Linked DNA regions of Homo sapiens: regions 1 and 3 are each reported to be linked to region 2. The links are microRNA targets in miRTarBase. Many come from high-throughput screens and were not tested one by one. Region 2 holds a microRNA gene; each other region holds the end of a gene's coding sequence.
Evidence for each region. The annotated mature microRNA hsa-miR-183-3p reads GUGAAUUACCGAAGGGCCAUAA and lies in region 2 at 4,721-4,742, shown strand. An mRNA with a match to its seed (bases 2 to 7 or 8) in the 3' UTR can be bound and repressed. Matches are read on the target gene's strand: a 7mer-m8 pairs with bases 2 to 8, a 7mer-A1 pairs with bases 2 to 7 and ends in A, and an 8mer does both.

Region 1 (7,195 bases), not on the chromosome of region 2:
ATTTTGAAAATTTTTTATTATTATTATTATTCACAATGTCCCTTGAGATGCTCTTTTGAGGGATACTGAAACATTAATGGCTTTCCTGGCACAGAGTGTGTGGTAGACGATCTCATGACCTTTACATCTTGCTTATTCCCCACTCCTATCATGTGGAACAGGGAGTAAGCCCACTGAAAAGCCATCAGAAAAAGCAAAGTAGAGATAGGAATTCAGTTTAGCTTTTACTAACTACATAATAATGCTGACCCTCTGTTGTTAGAGACTTTAGTAGCCAAGTTCAACAATGAAAATATGTTCCTCATTTTTTAATGGTGGTTCCTTGTTGGGGAAGAAGGATGTCCCTGCCTATTGTTCAAGATTGTCTGGTAAAGGATAGAACAGCCACCTCTACTTTTACAAGGAAGTTTTTTTTAACAAGAATAGTATGCTATTTTCTTTCACTGTGCGTTAGGAGCTACCTGATTCCTATTCTGATTAAACATTTAATTTCAAAATAATATTTTAATAGATTATTTTTCCTTTTGTTTATTTAGGTCACAGTTTTGAAATCCAACAAAGGAATTCTGAGTTTCTAAAATAGTAGTTTGTGGGTCACATTTAAATTTGTGGTAAGGCTGTTGGTACTGCTTTGGTTCATATTCTTGTTTAGAAATTCAGGACTAATTAAAATGTGATCCTCTTTGAGGCTGGGAATTAGGAAGTCACTAAGGTACTTATAATGTATATCAGTGTTTTTAAGTATAATTACAGAGCAGTCAGACTACAAATGTGTAATAAGGGTAATTAGTACCTTGCCTGAGTTAATTGATTAAAACTGTGATGTCTGGTCCTAAAGTAATTGGAACTCTGTCATCTGTGAAGGTCACGCCTGTTTTCTTATATGTACAAGGTAATGAAAATGTAATAAAGATATACTGAAGCCTCAAGAATTAATAATTGCAGTAGATCCGGCTGAATTATAGACATTTAAGTACACTACTGTTGCATTGTTAATGTTGGAAGTAGGGATTTGAAACATTTAAAACATTTTGCCAAGTAGAGAGCTTGTTCGCCTGGTTTAAATGGCCAGATAATTTGTCCTTCTATTGGCTTAAGTGCTGAGAATGTGTATTTCCTTAGGAAGGTTTAATTACCAAAATTCAGTTAGCTTCACGTTGATCTATCAAGTTTCAAAAACAGTAGACTGTTCATTGGTTCTCTTACCATATGACCTATTGCATTTACCTAAGCACTTATGTTTCTTAGCATGAAAGTGCTCTCTTAAGAGACCATTTGTTATTACTCAGCCAGGGTTCTAATTGGGATGGCAATGAGAAGAACCAAAGGTGGGGATGTTGGGTGTCATGTTGGGTGTCATTTATTACATTAAGGCTGGAGGCCTAAGTCATAGGGCTGAAATAATGGCTTCTGTTGTGCTTCCATTATGTGCCCTGCTCTTTCATTGTCCTACACTGCCACCTTTGGAATTCGTCTCTTATTCCCTGTGCCTAAGAGCAACTAGTGCATTTCAACATAGGTCTGAGAGCATCCTGGTTAAGAGGAACCTGGCTTCTTTACATCTGTGTTCACCTTATTTGTAAAACTAGGGTATAATTGTACTTTCTTAATAGGTTTTTGTGGTTATTCTGACAAATAACATAATGGCACAGAATGCATTTAGCATGCTGCTTACACATACTACGTGTTCAATAAATATTAGCTATTCTCCTTAGAGGCAAGTCCCAGGTTTAATATTTTAAAACTTTTTGTATGTATCTTAAAACTTCCAGGCCAAGGGGATGAAGTCCTTTGTTACACAATTTTTGAGTACCTAAGTATAGTCATTAAACATACATGGTCTCTACTTTTGAAGAAATAAAGGTCTTATATAAACAAATAATCACAGCTACTAGTGCCCTCAGCTATCTGGGTTTTTCAAGACCTCCCAGGGCCAACTTATGGCATTTAGTCATAGCTCCACAGTATGTCTTTCTGAAGTTTTTAGAAAATCCTTGTAGGTAATAACTCCCCTACCTCCCTCAGCACAGCTGGGACACACTATTGAATGAAACTCATCAAGTCCCTAATTCTTTACCACCCCACTCCTCACCACATGGAATTCTAGTGAAAGAAACTTTTACTTCATGCTGTTCAAAAGGGCACTTTTCACAAAGTGTAATAGAGACTGTACAATTTAAGCTTTATGCTCCACGGCCTAAGGATTTACCATATTAATCTATGCAGATTTACTAAAGGGAATAAGAGTGAAACTGATATAACTAAGATAGTTACCTCTCACTTTCCCTCCCAGCTTTCCTCCTCTGGAAGGATTCATTTCCAGATTCAAAAGTTTATTTCTAAATGGCTGTTTCTCCTGTCATAGCCTGCAGTGTACATCAGAATAAAGAACCGTGCCCAGGGTGAATATCTGACAGTCACTGGAAGTCTAGCAGACACCAGGGCAACATCTGTGTGCATTTCTCCCTATAGTGGAAAGAATACTCAGATCTGGTACTACTGCCGAGGACTCTTTAAATCCAAGGTAAGCAATCCCACTGATACAGTATGCCACTTTCTGGTCTGTTTTTTATTTTGAAAACTAGAATCCTGTCAAATCAACTGGCATGATAAAACAATGCAACTTCTTAGAAACAGGTGTTGATTATAAAAATACTGCCATATATTACTAAAACATTTATATAAAATTAACTTAATTTTTTGAACAAGAAAATCCAGTTTCAATTTTTAAGTAAACACAAAGGTTATCACATATTATGGATATACCTAAGTGATTTTTTACAACCAATGGTATAAGTCACCAGATCTAAGTTGGACAATGTGCTTTTGTAAGATGTTCCTTACTTGATGGCCCAGATAAAATCAGCCATCTCTGTGATTCTAAATATGTTGAAACCTTTCATTTTCAAAGTATACAAAGAAGCAGTAGAAGAAGAAAGCTGTTATTGGAAGAAGCTTAGAAAATAAAATTTAGGGTTCTTTTCTATGACCCTTCCGTTATGTTTAATGCATTGGGAATAGAACACTACTTTAAAAACATTCAAACTGTGTTTTATTGTATCACCAATGGATTATCTACTTTTTCTCATGCTTCAAAAATGAAAAACTTTTAAAAGTAATTATTGTCTGGATATCTTTAGCCCATCATGCAATGTTTTCATAAGAAAACCAAGCTCAACATAATACGTTTTAAGCAAACAGGGATTTAACATTTAATTCCAATTCACCAAATCTTTATTGAACATCTGTTGTCAGATGTAGACATCCTATTAAAAACAAGTACCTCTATTTCAGTTGGTTTATTTCTGTACCATCTCCTACCCACAGCCGTAAAGAAGACATTAAAAAAGGCTTACTGAAATTATACTATATAGTATTTTTTTAGATAAGACACACACACACTTCATGTCTATGACTTGTTTACCTAAGATAAAAGGGACCTAATTCAACTTACTTTAGCAAACATACTACTGCCAATTAATCATTTCTTAACCCTTTTAGGCCAGTGATACATGTCTTGATGTGATTGGTGGCCGGGACACACCTGGAGCTAAAGTAGCTCTATGGACTGAACATGGGCAATTCAGGCAGAAGTGGAGACTGAATAAAAATGGAACTATCAGCTCTTATCTCAGTGATCAACTTGTCCTTGATGTTAAAGGTGGGCCTTTGATGATACCCAATGTTGTGTCCCTGGATATTAGTTTCAGTTCCAAATCTCCTCATTTTGGGTAAAGGACATCCTTATGTATAAGAGAAATGTTAAGTCATTTAAAATTATGCTTGAAGAAAATTAAGATAGGCAGTTTTACAAACAAAACAATTAGCAGAAAAAGCCAAACAACAAAGCTTAGGGTTTTTGTTCATTAGTACAGTTGTAAAACTTTCATTTGCTACGTGAACTCAGAACAGTTCTAAATTTCAAGCACCATAAACCATGAAATGAATGTCATCTGTTTCTTAGAAACATCTCTAGCTTTTTGCCAGGAATTGCCATGGTCCTTAAAAACCCTCAGGTAGAATTTATGGTAGGTATCAATTAACCTTGTTTTTGAATTCAGCAAGGTCAGGGCCAATATTATTCATGGCTGTTGCTTTAATTGGGTTAGTCACAGTTTTGTTGGTGTAGAAACAAAAACACAGTACCTGACATTCAGCCAGAGTTCTCTCAAGAGCACTTTGTTCTAAAGAATCACATTAAGGCACGCCACTTATACAATCATGTATTATACCTTTTAGTATTTCAATTTGAGTCATAATAAGGTCCAATTTGAGGTGAATAATGGCTAAGCCTGTTCAAACTCAGCTTCCCATTTCAGACTTCTTTGTAAATGACACATTCATCCACCGAAATGGTGAGCTGAACAGAAGCTTGTGAAAATTGTGAAATTGCTAAGCACCTGCCTGAACAAATAATCTTTTCTTTTGGAATTTCTATTTTAGGAGGAAATTATTGTGACAAGACTCATGTAATTGTAAATCAGCCCCTGGAGGGAGAAGAAACACAGAAATGGGACATTGAAATATTGTGAGAGAATCAACATCCCTAGAAAGATCCCTAGAAAGAGCAAAGAAGGAAACACATCTGTCATTGTCTTGTGGACGTGGAAAGGAAGCTACTGTCCTCACACTCCTGGATCACTGAGCAGAATGAACATTTTCTCCAGCCTCTGAGACTATCGCTCTTAACCATGGAAAAGCTCAAAATATTCTTGCCATTACTCAGTGTTCCTATAAAGAAAATATTATGATATCTTGGAAAGGTTCTATTCCTGATCTCCAGCTGTGGTGAGCAAGTTTCCTGAAGTGTTTATTTTCTCTCATATCCACCAAACGTGAATCCTGTTCCTGATGGCCCGTTATTGGACACTGGTGATGCTATTATCCTGTATTATTTATTAATATCCTACCTAGATGCTTGTATGAGTACAAAGCATAAAGAAACAGATTTCTATAGGTCAAGTCATACTTTTGCAAACAGATGAGTAATTTTTTAGCAACACCTGAAAATATACTAAACTTTCCTAGATAAACTTTAAGGTTTCTATACTGAGGCTTTTATAATGAACGCACCTCGTTAAGTATTTATACTTGTAACTAACCCCAGGCAGGGACCTCAGCTTTGTTAGGAATAAGGCACAAGAAGTATTTTCTGTAGCTATTGTTTCCTCAGTCCTTCAAACTAAAAAAGTACAAATAAATAACCTATGGCCAAACTTGCACTGTTACGTGTTAACCAAGACATCCCTTTAGGTGACAAGACTCTATAACAGTGGTTACCTGTCTCCATGTTGACACTTCATCCTAGATTTAAGGAGAGGCATCAATTTTTTTTTTTTTTTGCCTCAAGAGAAATTTCAAATATCCAAATTAAAACACAGTAGCATTTGAACCTTGACCTTACCATCTCTTTAAGTAAACGTGGAGTTGATTTCTCTACTAAATAACAGAAACCTCAGTTTTTCACTCCCATTGTAAGTAACTTTTATTTAAGTAAGTAAAATCAGGTAGGAAATCACCTTTGACTTAGCTTCCAGTAGTCATTACCACCTTTTACTGCACAATTCACAAGCATGTTTTCCTGGTGAATTGGACTGAAAATTACATTTTGACAACTTTTTTTCCTTTTATCCCCAACTTTTGCCAGAAAGCAGAAAAATGCTCTATTTTTATAAAGAAAGATTAAATTCTCCAATGATATTTTAAAAAATATCAACCTACATGCACTTTAGAATGTAAAATAACAATGACTATTTTAAACTCGAAGACCCACTATTTTGAGTATTTTTTATAGACTTTAAATACTGGGTTTTTTTCCTCCTTCAATCTCAGGCTTTTCTCCATCTTTTAAGCAGCCTCTGTAACTCCCTTTTGTCCATAGGTGTTGCGTGCCTCTCATCTGTGGGGAAGTATTATTTAATAAAATTTATGTTACAGGATAACTTTATTTTAATGGGCATGGGCTTGTCTATACACAAAGGTATGTATATTTTCATTATAAAAAACCAGTTTAAAATTTTTTCTTATTTTAATTGTTTGAAATTTTTCTAGAGCCAAAGAAGCTCTTTAAAGAAGTTGTTTCTTCCAAAGAACAAAGCCAGGTTAATGACATTCAATTCTAAATGATACATTGGAATTGTGCCTTTTCTACCACACTGGATTAAATAAACTTGTCAAAATATGGTTTTGTCATTTTCTGAGACACTTGGTAATTTGCTGTTCTTTCTTTCATGTGCCCGTTAGTACATTTGGCCAACTGACCACCTGTAACAGGGAGGTCTCATGTTTGTTAGTAGATACGCAGGTAAGGAAACTTGAATTCATCCTCTCCTCGGCTCAGGTCTTTGCTTTTCTTTTAATATATGCATATAAAATAGTAGGCATTTGATTCTGCAAAGGCACTAGACTACTTGAATTAAACATTCTGTCCAGAGGGATAATACCAGGCTTTCCTTTTCCTCATCTGTAGTAAGTTTCAGGTCCTTGACAGAAATAGCTGGACTATTCCAAATTTGCTTCAGTGCATCCAAATGTGACAAAGGGAAGCGAAGTCCATGAAACTGAAAGGATAAATTTATTTGTCAAAATATATGTATACTACTTATGTCATTGAAGTAGCATTTTCCTGTAAATTTATTCTCCATACATCATTATTTTTGATACCCCTCATGAGTATTTTAGACACACTACAATTAGATAACATAAAAGATGCCAACTTCTATATAAAAGGCATCCTAATTTATGTAGTAAGTGATATTAGTAATTTGAAATGTTTTACATTATACCATTCCTATAAGGCTACAGGTCCCAGCTAGTATGTCTTAAAACTGGTGTGCATGTATCACAGAAATGTCTGACTTAATCATCCCCATGCAGGAGCTCTGTGAGTAGTGCAAAATGGTTAAGTCCACAGTGCAGCCATAAAAAGCATATTACCTGTAAATCAAAAATAATCAATTCTTCCCAACCACCACCCAAGTCACAGGATAGGCATTTGTTTTCAGTTGAAACAAACCTCTGTTTCCTCCTCATTTCCCATCATGTGTGTCTCTCTACTATTCTTTAAGGAATGATAGATGTACACCATCTTTTCTTGAGCTTCATCCTTTGGGGAAAAAATAAATGCATTAGGCCATCAACAACACAACACTGAAGGTGTCAGTACTAGGAAGGTTTTCCAATAGGTCAACACCAA
Region 2 (7,195 bases):
GTCCCGGCGCAGCTGGCTTTCGGGGATGACGCGGCAGTGCCTACTCGCTCTTCCGCGCCTTCAGGCGGAGGCGCCCACGGGGCGCCTGGGTCCCGGGTCCGCCAGTGGCGTCTGCCCAGCGCCCAGCGCTGTTCCCGGGCGGGGGCGGGGGCGGGAGCGGCTGCGGTCCGAGTGCGGCCGGTGCTTGCGAGGTGCCTACCCGCGAGGAGTTTGGCTGGGGTCGGGCTGCGTTTCGCCGCCCTGGTGGGCTCAGGCGGAAGCGCCAGGCTGGGAGGGGGCTGCGGAGAGCGCCGGGGCCCCGGAGCTGGCCCCTCCAGCGTCTTGTCAGGGCTGCGCGGCTGGTTCGAGGCTGCTTCCGTGGCCCGGAGCCGCCCCGCCCAGTCTCTGGGGGAAAGCGGCTCTCAGACCTCCCGTGTGCCTCCACTTCGCGGCCACTCATCCCGGGAACCCCGGCGCACGCGAATGAGACACCGTTCCCCGCCCTCAACTGCCCCATTCCTGTTAATAGCGCTAGTGGCACCCAGGTTCCCAGCCCTTCCCCAAGATCGGCGGCTGGACGGCTTGCCTCTGGCGCCTCACCGGTCAGCGCATCCCAGGACTATGGGCAGTGAGGGTGTCACCCGGGGTCAGGGGTCGCCCGATTCCACGGTGTCCTCCAGGCTGAGCCATTCGTTTGCTCTTCCAACCCGGGCTCCCGGACACCGTGTACAGTAATACCCGCCGGGGGCAGGGGCACTGAGGCCGGCTCTGAGCGATTAGGGCCGAGGGCGGGCGGTGCCGTAATCGACCTCCCCACCCCCACAGGCAAGGTGCGGCGGCGCCTCCCAGGTTTGCGCCCGTCTTCGCAAAGCTCCTGAGGGCGAAAATCCTGCGAGCCAGGTGGCGGATTCTCGGGCCGGGTCACTCAGCTCTACGGGTGCGCATCACCCTCTACCTGTCACCCAGTGAGCCCGACCGATGGGCACCGAGTCGGCGGATCTCTGATCCGAGGCCGAGCCTTCGGAGAAATCTGTCCTAGTGGCCTCATCGTGGCCTGAGCGAACGCAAAGGAACCTGCCCCAAGCCCAGCTCTCAGCCTCGACCCCCACATTCCCCGCGCGGCTCTCGGTTCGGACCTGGGCTCGGAGCGGCAGCCTCCACCACTGCTCGTTTCTTTACCGCTCAAGGCCGCCCCTTCATGCTCCTGCGGGGGAGTTAGCGGGACCTCTGGAGTCGGCCTTACGCAAAGAAGAGAAAATTCTAGGATGCCGGCCTCACTTGTGAGGATTTCGTTTATTCTTTTTCTCCTACCGGGGCCCAGTGGCTCTTGGAGTGAGCTCCGCACCCCAGACACCTGAGTATTTATTTAATGGGTCGGTGGCGGCCTGGGCTTCGGGGAAAGGAGCTCTGGGCCCCTCTCCCAGCACCTCATGGGGACACAGGATGACAGGCGCAGCGTCCAGGGCATGCCCGTTCAAGGGCCCCAGCAGCCTCTAGCCCCTGGGACCTCAGGGGCATTTGATAGAGACTGGAGGGATCAGGACCAGACCGGTTGTGGGTGGCGCGGCTGGGACCCTGGACTCCAGATTCGTTGTGTAGAGGTGGAGAGGAGAGCCAGGAGTCGAGCGGTAGGCTATGTGCTGTCTAAGGACCCCGGAGTACCCATAGCCCAGAGTCCTGCAACACTCACCTCTAACACTGGAAGGGGTTGGGGGCCTGCCCTTTGCATTGGGCACCAGTGCCCAGGAAGGGACACCCCTAGGGGAAAGGGGACTCGAGTTTTAAGAAGGCCCAAGTAGAGTTCAGGAGGGTGGGGCTGAGAGCGACCGAAGGTGGGAGGGGGCGCTTTGTGGAGACCTCCTAGGATGTGTAGGACCCCCACACACCCTGTGAGTCCCTGGCTGCCCAGCCTGGCCTGCAAGTTGCATCTCTTTTGGTCCTCTTCCATTGCCAGGCGCTGACGCCCAGCGGGTGTGGGAGACCTTGTCTTCATCTTCCCACTCCAGAAGCGGATTTCTGTGCCTTTGATCTCAAGGTCAGGGCTGTGTCCTGCAGGGAGGGCAGAAGAGGCTGCTATCCTGACCTGCGCCAAGCCATAGGCCTCTGTTTTCCCTTTTGAGATTCCGAGTGGGGATTCTGCTGCTGATGTCGGAGAGCTCCTCTTACCCGCTTTTCGAGAGAGCTGGGAGACCTTGCTTCCCTAGGGCCCAGGCCCCAGCCTCCCTCCACCAGGATGGAGAGGCCCCAGCGGGCGTGGCACCCCCCAGGCACTGCGGCACTTGGGCTTCCTGTCGCATTTGGGTTAGGAGGGGTGAGGCAGGCGCAGGGGAGGAACCTGGCCCAGCCGACTAGAACTGGAAGTGGAGAGGGATTTGGCTTTGCGAGCTGCTCCCTGTATTCCATCCTATGTCAGTTACAAAGATGAGGAAAACAGACCAAGGAGCTCGACAGAGATGCCACAATTTGAAGGAGCGTACGTGTTTGGCTGCTTTGTTACAGGGCTCTCTCCTCTACCTGGGGTCCCTTTTATTCCTTCCTGGGCTGGGGAGAGCAGAATCCCTGGCTCCATCTGTTCTCCAGCTCTAAGGCCTCTGTGGCTCCTTGGTTGCAAGGTGCTGCGTGTTCCCCTTCCCTAACACCTGCCTCTCCCCATCCTTGGCTGTCCCCAAAAGAAGAATGAAGAATTCTTTTTTTTTTTTTTTTTTTTTTTGTTGTTGTTGAGACAGAATCTCGCTCTGTTGTTGCCCAGGCTGGAGTGCAGTGGTGCGATCTCTGCTCACTGCAACCTCCACCTCCCGGGTTCAAGCGATTCTCCTGCCTCAGCTTCGGGCGCCTGCTACCACGCCTGGCTAATTTTTGTATTTTTAGTAGAGACGGGGGTTTCACCATGCTAACCAGGCTGGTCTCGAGCTTCTAACCTCAGGCGATCCTCCCGTCTCCCAAAGTGCGCTGGGATTACAGGTGTGAGCCACTGCGCCCAGCCAGAAGAAAGAAGAATTCTGCATTCTGTTTAATTATCCCAGGGTGAGGCTTCTTGGGAAAGATTTCTCAAAATAGATCTTCCCACCCCCACCCCCACCCCATGCTGAGCTGTCAGGGTGCTATTAAAATGCAGATTTCCAGGCAGGCTCAAGAATCTACATTTCAACAGGCTCCTTGGGTGATGCTTATGGCTACACCCTAAGCAATGTTCATAACTACCCACCCCATACTCTTTGCTAACACCCTGCCATCACCCCTTCCCCTCCCCACCCAAGGCTGGGAAGTCTGGTCTCTCTTCCTTAGTAGAGTTCAGAAAATTGTAGTAAGGGAAACTGAGGCAGAAGGCTGAGGAGTGACTTCCTGAGATCACCACCTCATCAAGCTGGATTGTCCTCTGGGGAGATAGACCAGCTAGAAGGGCAGAGCCCTGTAGTGGGGGTGTGTGGGAGCAGGACAAAGAGTCCTCGGGAGCAGGAAGGGTGGAGCATTAAGCAGTGTCTAGGGGAGAGCGGATGGCTTTGGCCAAGGTACCCAGATGGAGCTCTGAGGTCCACGGGAGGTAGTTCCTGGGGGTAACATCGCCAAGAGGTCTGCATAGTTTCTGGGCCAGGGCACCTGCTCTGACCCTTCCAGGATATTTTCTAGCCACCCTGCCTTCTGGGCCACCGCTGACCTGGAGTAGGCTGAGACTCTAGTGGCCACTCTGCGGAGGCCCCAGCTTGCCTGCCCTGGGTGCCAGCTCCCCAGAGACCCTCCCTCCCACCCTCTCCCTTCTTCCCGTCCTTCCCCAGGGCCTGTGACACCAGAGGCAGGGCCTCCACAGCAACTTCTCTCTAGGCAGCTGCTCTGGCAACCACTGATGCAACCTTCCCAGCCCCTCCCTCGCTCCTGAGCCTCCGCTTTCCTCCGCAGTCACTCCAGAGCCAGCCAGGAGCCACTCCCTTGCTAGAGTGCATCCGTGCCTCCGGCTCCCTCCAAGCCACCTGGGTGGCTGCAGGACTTCTCTTCTGCCCTCCTTTCCTGGCCTTTTCCTGCCTTGATCCTAGGCCGGCAGCAGAGATGCCCAGCCTGGGCGGTTCACAGTCTGGCCCAATCTGGTCTGGTTTGGGATGGGAGTGGGGGTGAGCAGCAGATTCGGTTTGTTCCTGGGGCTCTGTTTCTGCCACAGGGCAGGCTGGGGGGTGGAGGATAATGGAGACCAAAGTGCCTAGGAGCCTGGGCTGCTGGTGTCTGGGCTCAGAGGCTACGAGAGGCATCTTGGATGTCCCACTGGTCACTGCCCCTGTGGCAGGTTGGGTAGAGAGGAGGCTCTGGCCAGCTGCTTGCCTCTCCGAGCCAGAGTTACTCTGGCAAGGAGATGGATGGTCCTGACCCACTCCCTCCCCAGCCTGGAGGCGCAGTCTGGGTGATGTGGAGGGATGTGGGCCTTCAGGTGGAGATAGGAGACACCTTGGTGTGGTCTTCTCCTCTGCAAGGCCAGAAGGTCAGCTCCTCTCCCGCACTGTCCCTGTCTCCTTGAAGGTCATCTTGGGCTGATGGGGCATGTGGATCTTGTGAAGAGGTGGGATGGGGTGGGGGGTAGAGACCGTAGCAGCCGCTGCTGAGGGCCTGCTGGGGGGCCCCCAAGGGAGTGGGCAGGCTAGGAGCAGGGAACGGGCATCGTGGGCCGCTGGTCTCTCCGCAGGGTCGGCAGGCCGCAGAGTGTGACTCCTGTTCTGTGTATGGCACTGGTAGAATTCACTGTGAACAGTCTCAGTCAGTGAATTACCGAAGGGCCATAAACAGAGCAGAGACAGATCCACGAGGGCCTCCGGAGCACCTTACCCACTTCTGCCTTGAGTGCTCCTAGACGTCGGAAACAGGCTGCTTCCAAGGGTGCAGGGATGCAAGGCCCCTCGTCCAGTGTGTCCCCAGAGAGCCCGCACCAGTGCCATCTGCTTGGCCGATTTTGGCACTAGCACATTTTTGCTTGTGTCTCTCCGCTCTGAGCAATCATGTGCAGTGCCAATATGGGAAAAGCAGGACCCGCAGCTGCGTCCGCCTCCCCTGCATCCTTGTGTCAGGGCCCCAGCCTGCTCCTCCTCAAGGCCTCCTCACCGCCTCCCCAGCCCATCTGGCTCAGCTGCTGTGTGAGGGCCCAGCGCTGGTGGGCAGCCAGATCGCCTTACACTGCCTGGGGCCACGGTAGAGCTGGGAGCCCAGCAATCTGAGCTGGGCCAGCAGATGGGGCCGCCCAGGGCAGAGGTGGGGGAGTCTGAAACCATCTGTAGGGCCATCCTGAATGGTGCCGTGGGTTGGAAAGGCCCAGCCAGGCTCCCAGCACACGCTTGGGGTGAGACCTTGGCTGGCAGCACAGGGCCTGGTCTTTTCTGCTGCAGGTTGTGAAGGGGGCAGCTCCAGGCAGGTGGGCTGCCCTTGAGGTCAGCCTGGGTGTTTCCAGGGGGGCTACCGTCTCTGGAGCTGTAGCCTGCTGTGGAGTGGGTCATCTCCGAACAGCTCCAAGAGGAGGATACTTAGTGGGGCTCGGAGTTGGAGGGCATTTTCAGGCCTGCCCCTAGAAGGTTCTGGAGCAGAGGCCAATGTTCCCCTTCACACACCACACACTGGTAATGTAGCTTCCTGGGTCCCTGGATCTGGGCTATGACTAACTGGCCTATGCTCTCCATCTGGGTGTCAGGTGACATTACATATATAATCCCAACAGTTCCCACCTCAGCCCTGTGGGGCTTGTAATTTTTTAAAATAGTTATCTCATAGATGGGGAACCTGAGGCTTTGAGAGGAAAGGCTTGGCTGAAGAGGTTGGTGAGTGGTAGAGCTGGGTCACTGTGGCTCTTCCGCCACCAGCCACACCTTCCATGGAGGCACCCAGGGCCTGGAGGTGTCTCAGCTCTGAATCTACAGGCCTGGGCTCCCAAGGATGCCCCAGATGGCAGAGACTGAGGCTGGGAGGCCTGGACCTAGTCTGTCAAAGCTGGGGAGAGCCTGGCCAGCCAGGCTGGACCCATGTGAAATCTGGTGGTCAGCAATCAAGCAGGAGACCAGTGGCCGACTTGGGACCAGCTGGGAGCTATCATGCCCCAGGTCACTGGGCCAGCCCCTGATGGGGCTGCTTCTCCCCAGGGAGCCTCAGGCAAGGGTTGGTGGACTTAGCCCAGATCAGTGGGAGTCATTTTAGGTGTCTGAGCCAGGGAGTGCCCGGGTGGGGGATGTGTGTGGTTGAAGCTGGCAGCTGGAGGATGACGGGTCCAGTTGACTGCACAGCAGGAACATGGTGACCAGTGCTGCCTGCCTGGGTGCCCTGGGGACTGCCTTGGGTGGGTTGGGCCTTTTTTTTCTTGTCAGTTAGCTATCACCAAACCGCGAGGAGCCCCCAATAAATTCCCTCTGGGGTGTGGTGCCCGTGTTTCTCTACAGAAGCTCTCCAAGCCCCTGCAGAAAAAAGGAGGGGCTTGTTTATTTCAGGATAGAAGGGGACTTCTGCCCTGGTGAGGTGTCCCTGTAGCTAGGTCTCTCTTCTGATGGCCCCAGCTCTCCCTCTGCCCCTCGGAACCTGGCTGGCCTGTGCCGCACCCTGTCTCTGTGCTCCAGTCCTCCGCCCCGGGTGCTTCCTTAGGGCGTCCTGCTGCAGGTCCCATGGGATAGGAAAGAAGGGATTTCCCGGCCTGAGTGAGAATGAGCCCTGGAGGTGGGGTGGGCACAGAGACCCAGCAAGGGGGGGTGGAAGGCCCCTGGCAGTGACCGGTTCTAGAGCTTTTCCCTGGAGCCTCTGGAGTGTCTGGCCAGGGTTCTGCTCCTTCCTGCCTAGCGGGGAAGGCCGGATGACAGAAGCTGCCCTCAGCCCCTGGGTGGTCTGCAGCTGGGCTCCACCTCCTCACACCTGCCCAGGTGGGCGCCTTTGCTGAGCCCCGAGTGCAGGCACTGGTGTGGGGGCGTGCCTCCACCAGGCTTCAGGCCCGGCTGCTCTGGGGCCCTGCTCCAGCGCTCCAGGGGAGGACCTCAGGCCAAAGCTAGTTTCTAGATCTCCTAATTTACCTAGTTCCGGGCCAGACCTGGGTGGTGAGTTCACCCACAACAGTGACTGTCCCAGAGAGTGGGGGCCACCACAGCTGGCCCTCCTCCCTAAAGACACAATTTCCTACCACCCAGGCTGGGGGCACTTAGGATAGGAGAGGGCCCCTCTTCACCTCCCCACCCTGCAGAACAGGTCCTGGATCCTCCCTTGTGTGGCTTCC
Region 3 (7,195 bases), not on the chromosome of region 2:
GAATTAATAAGCTCTCGCATTAGAAGAAAATAGGAAGAAAGTTAGCAAAGAAAGGGGTGAACTGAAAGCGTCAACATGCATTCGTGAAAGTCTGGGTGCAGTTTATTCTGATTTACTCTGAGGTGAGCTGAAATCAGGACCGCAGGGTGGGCGATGCATCTGTGACAAGGCTGGACAGACTCATGGGTGCCTGCCCCCCCTCCTCCTGCAGCCCCTCCCCCAGGGCAGGCCTCCTGTCCTGGGAGCCAGGCTGCTGGCATGTCACACAAAATCACGTGTGCTGGGTTCTGCACAGAGCAAAGCCAGGTATGCAGCACAAGGCAGGCTGTCTGGCTCTCGAAGACCCCGATAGAGAGCCCCCGCAGGCTGGGCATATTCTGACCCCAGAGGTGGCAGCTTCCTGCAGTTCCCTGATCTGTCATTCCTGTCCTGTGACTTCCAGGGAGGGGCAGCTCCTGGGAGACCCACCAGCTGACACCTGGGACTCTGCCCTTCCTTCCTAGGCTGCTGTGTGAGTGGGGCTGGGGTCTGGAGACCCTGAGGGCTGCCCCAACACCAACACCCCTGCCTGTGCTCCTCTTGTGACATGGGTGCGTCCTGTCTTTACTGCCGAAGCCACAGCAGGGGTTTAGGGAGCCCGTGCATCTGACCAGTACCTGTCTAACCCCACGCCGCCTGTGCCACCGTAATCTGACCGGTACCTGTCTAACCCCACGCAGCCTGTGCCACCGTAATCTGACCGGTACCTGTCTAACCCCACGCCGCCTGTGTCACCGTAATCTGACCGGTACCTGTCTAACCCCACGCCGCCTGTGCCACCGTAATCTGACCGGTACCTGTCTAACCCCACGCCGCCTGTGCCACCGTAATCTGACCGGTACCTGTCTAACCCCACGCTGCCTGTGCCACCGTAATCTGACCGGTACCTGTCTAACCCCACGCCGCCTGTGCCACCGTAATCTGACCGGTACCTGTCTAACCCCACGCCGCCTGTGCCACCGTAATCTGACCGGTACCTGTCTAACCCCACGCCGCCTGTGCCACCGTAATCTGACCGGTACCTGTCTAACCCCACGCCGCCTGTGCCACCGTAATCTGACCGGTACCTGTCTAACCGCACGCCGCCTGTGTCACCGTAGTCTGACCGGTACCTGTCTAACCCCACGCCGCCTGTGTCACCGTAGGACAGAGCACAAAGGAGCACCCAGGATGCACACCTGACACACTTCGCGGCCGAGCCGCAAGCCTGAGGAGCGGGAGACCCTCGCGGTTCAGCGGCGTGAGGGCAGAGCGACGGAGCCCCTCCGCTTCTGTCTGCGTGAGCACATTCGCATAGAACAAGAGTTCTGACCTGGTCAAACACTTGACACGCACATAATGGAGGAAACTTTTGGCATGCTATCAAATGCTTTCTCACATGCACACAACATCTCCTCCCCAGCATGAAGGAAAGGCAGCTGACCCTGGCCGACCCCACCCCAGGCTGGCCCCCACCAGAGGCCCGAGCGTTTCCCCTTCTGGCCACACGTTTCCAGTGGCCACCGTTCTCTACTGAGGACATCACCTCCAGCCGCTGGTCTTGCCAGGCAGCCTGTGCGAGGGTGAAACTGGCTGCCCAGCCTCCCAGCCCTGCCCTTACCGTGGTAAATTCCCCCCTCAGCAGGTGTCCCCATATCAGCCCTTGGGTCTGTCCCCTGCAGGGCCCTGCCTGGCAGCCCTGGGTACTACTGGTTCATCCACTCCCTACTGCCAAGCAGCCATCCTGTGCCAGGGACATGGGGCTTAGAATCAATCAGAGAATAAAACAGATGCAACCCTGCCCGTGTGGAGCTCACAAAATTCGGACATGGGAAGAGAACCACATTCACCGGGTGCTGATGCTGCAGTGTGACCGTGTCCCCTCCAGAATTCACATGACATTGTAATTGTCATTGCGGTGGTATTAAGAGGTGGGGCCCCCTACTCTTGCAAATGGCTTAATGCCTCATAAAAAGGCAGCGGAGAACTAGCTGAGGCCTGTTGACCTTCCATCCCCTCCACCACGTGAGGATGCAGTGTTCCCAGCAGAAACTAATCAGCCCACACCTTTATCTTGGACTTCCAGCCTCCAGAACTGTGAGAAATGATGTCCGTTCTTTTTTTTTTTTTGAGATGGAGTCTCACTGTGTCACCCAGGCTGGAGTGCAATGGCGTGATCTCGGCTCACTGCAATCTCTGCCTCCCAGGTTCAAGCAATTCTTCTACCTTAGCCTCCCAAGTAGCTGGGACCACAGGCATGCACCACCACCCCCAGCTAGTTTTGTTTTTTTAGTAGAGATGGGGTTTCACCATGTTGGCCAGGCTGGTTTCAAACTCCTGACCTCAAATGATCCACCCGCCTCGGCCTCCCAAAGTGCTGGGATTACAGGCGTGAGTCACCGTGCCTGGCCTGAATGTCTGTTCTTTATAAACTACCCAGTCTTAGGTGTTTTGTCACAGCGGCCCATACTGCCTGAACCACGACTTTCTGCGCTAAATGCCGTGTTGAAGAGCCCAGCTCTGGCGCCGGAGGCTGCGCCCAAGGCAGGCACGGCTGTTCACGAGTTGCGTCACCTTGGGCACGTCATCACCTCTCTGAGCCCCGAAGCTCCTCGACAGAAGTGGAATCAACAGTGCCCATTTCATTCAAGTTGTCCGGGCGAAGAAAATGGAAAATCATGTCCCTTAAGCGCAATACCTGGTAAAAAATCTCACACTGAACTGCGGCCATGACAACTCCAGCATCACCCAAGGAGCCTGGACACCGAGAAGGGCAGAAGCCTGTGCGGCCCAGCCCCCGCAGCGCGGCGAGGAGGCTGCACCAACCCTTGGTCTTCAGTCACTCAACCTCCCTGGCCCATTCTGTTTCCCAACTTAAGAAACAAAACAAAACATAGGTATAGAGAAGGATTTCACTATCGAAAGAGAAAGCGCACTGACAAGTGATCACACTGAAGCCAAGCTGGAGAGCCACATCCTGGCTAAACGCAGGGCCATTTTCTATCCGGGTCACCTGCCATCAGGTGGAGTTAAGGCCGATATTGCCCAATCGTCCTAGTTTTCAAGCAGTTCCAGAATTCCTGTTATGTGAACTCACCTCGTTTAACACTTGCTGTAACTCTCAATAGAGGATGTGAAGCACGCAGCACACACGTGCAGCTGAATGCTGGCCAATGTGGGCCGCTGAGTGGGCCGGGCCCAGGCTCACACCAACCTGGCACCAAGAAGTCAGAGCTCATGAATGTCGCTTGTACCATGCTCCACTATAGCTACATCCCCTCACACTGCCGGTCAGGGAGACTGAGGCCAGTGAGGACCATGGGAAAGTGCTGTGCCATCTGGAAGGTGTACGCATCATTAACATTTCACGAAGCCTTTTCCACCCCTAAACCCCCAACTTCAGGCTCTGCACTGAGGGGTCCCCGGACCAATGTGTGGGTGACACTGGACGGAGCGGGTGAGCCTGTGCTTCTCTACAGCACCTCCATCTCTATGCATCCACACACGCGTATGAAGATACAGGAGGTAAAGTGTGGACCCCTGGGAAGGTCAAAGTCCTAGTGGAGGTGAGATAAAAATTAGGCTGTCCACTTCCAACTCCAAATCGAATTCTGAACACATGATGAATTTATCATTATATTTTCTATCTCCAAGATAAAGCATTCACAGCAATATGAATAGGTTAGTTTATTTTGAGAGAGAGGAAGACATCATTTGGGTTCTGTAAACATCAGTCACTTTATTATGCCTCTGTCTGGCTGAAAAACACCAGCTCCTGCTGACTCCACAAGGGCACGGCTGCAGAGAGTGCTGCCTGCCAGGTGTGAGGTTTCCAGTTAAAAGTTTCAGCAGGGACACCATTTGCTGGATGTGTTTAAGATTAAAATTGCTTCGTAAAATGTGATAAATAGGTTACTATACACCTTGGTCAATATAGTTAAAGCACCAGCAATCAAAATACACCGCTCCGGGCCGGGTGAAGTGGCTCACGCCCGTAATCCCAGAACTTTGGGAGGCCGAGGTGGGCAGATCACTTTTAGTCAGGAGTCAGAGACCAGCCTGGCCAACATGGTGAAACCCTGTCTCTACTAAAAATACAAAAAATCAGCCAGGCATGGTAGAGGTACCTGTAATCCCAGCTACTTGAAAGGGTGAGGCAGGAGAATCCCTGGAACCCGGGAGGTGGAGGTTGCAGTGAGCCGAGATCACACCACTGGACTCCAGCCTGGGAGCCAAAGCCAGGCTCCGTCTCAAAAAAACGAAAACAAAAACTAAACAAAAACAAAACACTGTTCCGAGAGTTCCATAAAACATAAGGAACGTAAGTCACACATGATTCTCACGAGCAGCCGACGTTTTCCACGTACATTTCAAAGGTGCTTGTGATAAAAAATAAACTTTGAATTTTAATTGCACGTTTATATCAAAACACTCACACACACACACACACACACACACACAATTCTGTATGTCTGTTAACAACATTGCTAAATTGCTGTGTAACTTCTACCTGGGTATAAAACAGTAGAACAATGTACCTTGGGACTCATCATCAGGCAGCTCATTGCCAGGGGCTGCTGCAGGACCACTCTAGGGACCCCAGGACCCTGCAGTCGAGCATCTCTGAGGGGTCCAGGTCCACCCTACAGCTCAGGGAGAAAATGACATCACTACTTGTCTTGAAATCTACAGAGGAACACCAACCACAGAATTAGGGTCTAGATTGGGTGCCTGTAGGTAACTCAGTCAATTAAAAACAGCTCTGAAACCCAGACAACCTGATTATGAAATCCTTACCTTATTTTGTCAAATGAGCAACACAGTATGAATAATAACTTCTCATTTTAAAACAGGTACCATGATTTAAAAAAAAAAAAAACTTGCAAGATTTCATCTTTACCAGCCCACGCTCTGGTTGGTGGGGGTTAAACTCCAAGGCGTCTCTGCTGCTACAGGAGTCACTACCCCTCAGCGTTGTCTTTGTACCACTTGCCACCAGATGGCACTGCCGTACACTTCGGTCTAGAATTTTTTTTTTTTTTTTTTTTTGAGAGAGAGTCTTGCTCTGTCACCCAGGCTGGAGTGCTGGAGTGCAGTGGTGCGATCTCAGCTCACTGCAACCTCCGCCTCCCGGGTTCAGGCAATTCTCCTGCCTTGGCCTCCCAAATAGCTGGGATTACAGGTGTGTGCCACGACACCCGGCTAATTTTTGTAATTTTAGTAGAGATGGGGTTTCACCATCTTGACCAGGCTGGTCTCGAACTCCTGGCCTCAAGTGATCCACCTGCCTCGGCCTCCCAACGTGCTGGGATTACGTCGGGTGTGAGCCACCCCACCCAGCTTAGAATTTCATACGCTGGGAAGCTTTAATAAGGAACAAATCATGTTATTTTCTATCTTAGCCCAATTCTCTCCAACTGAAAAGAATGTGACTTCTGAATAAGACACACGGCATATGAGTGTGCAGCTGGAAAGAGTCAACGCTGACCCACCCGCCCTGTGGGAGGCACTTCACTATGAAGCCATTTCCAGCATTCAAAGCCACCCCACTCCTCAACAGGTGTGACGCCCCGATGCCTGGACACCATGGACTCCTCTCCTAGATGCTTGACACGGTCCGGCGCGGCTAAACTGACAGAGCCTGCCAGACAGTCATAAAATTATAATTTCTTAAAAATACTTTGTAGCTACTTCAAAATTAATACTAATGCGAAAGAAAGTTAGTATTTCCCTTAGAAGTAAACACAAAACATTCACTGCCTCATTAATTCAAAAGCCATCATTCGCGGGGCTTCCCAGAATCGGTGTGCCAGCTCTGCTGCCGCCCCGGAGCCCCGGCTGGAGCAGCTATGGCCTCTTCTTCCGCAGCAGCTGCCCGTTGCCTTCTGGCCTGCTCTTGGCTTCTGGCTGTGCGAAGTTCCAGTCCACCGGATTGAGAAGCTGCTGAGTCTTCTTATGGGTCCAATATGGATTAATGATTAGCGTAAGCAGAGCCAGTCCGACAAGGAACAGTGTCAAATGAGGCAGATACAGGCTGCTGACCAGGCCGTCCCAGTGCCAGAAACACACCCACCACATGTGGTAGGTTAGAACCATGCGGCAGTGAAACATGTGAATCATCAGCCACTGGTTGAGCTTCCAAAACAGAGACTCGGACCAGCCCGCCTGCATGGAGAGAAGACAAATGCACAAGTCAATGCGAAACTGCCAAAATTCATTCTTCACATCACAAAAAGGTATTTGCTACCTTACTTACCAAACAAAACAAATTCATTTCAAAGCAAAAGAATTTCCTCCCCAGGGCTCTGCTCTCATTGGGACTTCATTCTGAAAGGAGGCCACCAGCTCTGTGGGCGCACCTGGGCCAGCAGGGCTGACCCTTGCCCGCTCATGCTGTTTTCCTGCTCCTCTTGCTCTTTGGCTTCTGCTCCCTAAAGCTATGATAAATTCAACCTTTCTTTCAGTATCCCTTCAATCTTTGTTTTATCTTGAATTTTCTCATATTAAGTAAATAAACAATACTTATTTGGCAAAACCAGACACAGGTATATCAAGCTCCCATACCTAGACCCTGGGAAGTGATGAGGTCATGGGGGTAAGGCCCCATGATGAGATTAGTGTCATAAGAAGAGAAAGAGACCAGAGCCTTCCCCTCCTCCATGCTAGGACACAGCCAGAAGGTGGCCATGTAAACCAGGAAGTGGGTCTTCACCAGACATGAATCTGCTGGTGCCTTGATCTCAGACTTGCAGCCTCCAAAACTGTGAGAAAGGAATTTCTGCTATTCCAGCTGCCTAGTCTATGGCAGTCTGCTGTGGCAGCCTGAGCTGACTAATACAGTATACCTCCCCGGCAAAATATTCTAACTTGGGCCAGGCACGGTGGCTCACGCCTATAATCCCAGCACTTTGGGAGGCCGAAGTGGGTAGATCACTTGAAGTCAGAAGTTTGAGACCAGCCTGGCCAACATGGCGAAGCCCCATTTCTAATAAAAATACAAAAAAATTAGCCAGGCATGGTGGCGCACCATGTAATCCCAGCTAATTTGGGAAGCTGAGTCATGAGAATCATTTGAACCTGGGAGGCAGAGACTGCACTGAGCTGAGATCGTGCCACTGCAATCTAGTCTGGAGAAAGAGCAAGACTGTCTCAAAAAAATAAAATAAAATAAAAAATT

Region 1: the mRNA of RIOX2 is a reported target of hsa-miR-183-3p. Seed matches in the 3' UTR shown: 7mer-A1 at 6,315-6,321 and 7mer-A1 at 4,052-4,058.
Region 3: the mRNA of CLN8 is a reported target of hsa-miR-183-3p. Seed matches in the 3' UTR shown: 7mer-A1 at 4,418-4,424.

Annotation. Positions count from the first base shown.
Region 1 is chr3:97,938,783-97,945,977 of GRCh38, forward strand. RIOX2 (ribosomal oxygenase 2) reads right to left here. Exons shown (of 10, transcript NM_153182.4): 9 at 7,016-7,105; 10 at 3,036-6,560. The coding sequence ends at 6,402. CRYBG3 (crystallin beta-gamma domain containing 3) reads left to right here. Exons shown (of 22, transcript NM_153605.4): 20 at 2,366-2,524; 21 at 3,502-3,661; 22 at 4,444-6,202. The coding sequence ends at 4,532. Among named protein-coding and RNA genes, the nearest start is that of RIOX2, 30 kb to the right of the region's middle.
Region 2 is chr7:129,772,475-129,779,669 of GRCh38, reverse strand. MIR183 (microRNA 183) reads left to right here and starts at 4,656; the gene lies at 4,656-4,765. It overlaps MIR96 (microRNA 96), which reads left to right and starts at 4,901; the gene lies at 4,901-4,978. RefSeq lists a silencer at 58-187 and enhancers at 1,886-2,732, 5,576-6,437.
Region 3 is chr8:1,779,238-1,786,432 of GRCh38, reverse strand. It overlaps CLN8 (CLN8 transmembrane ER and ERGIC protein), which reads right to left. Exons shown (of 3, transcript NM_018941.4): 3 at 1-6,183. The coding sequence ends at 5,866. Among named protein-coding and RNA genes, the nearest start is that of CLN8-AS1, 18 kb to the right of the region's middle. RefSeq lists a silencer at 1,025-1,147 and an enhancer at 2,221-2,720.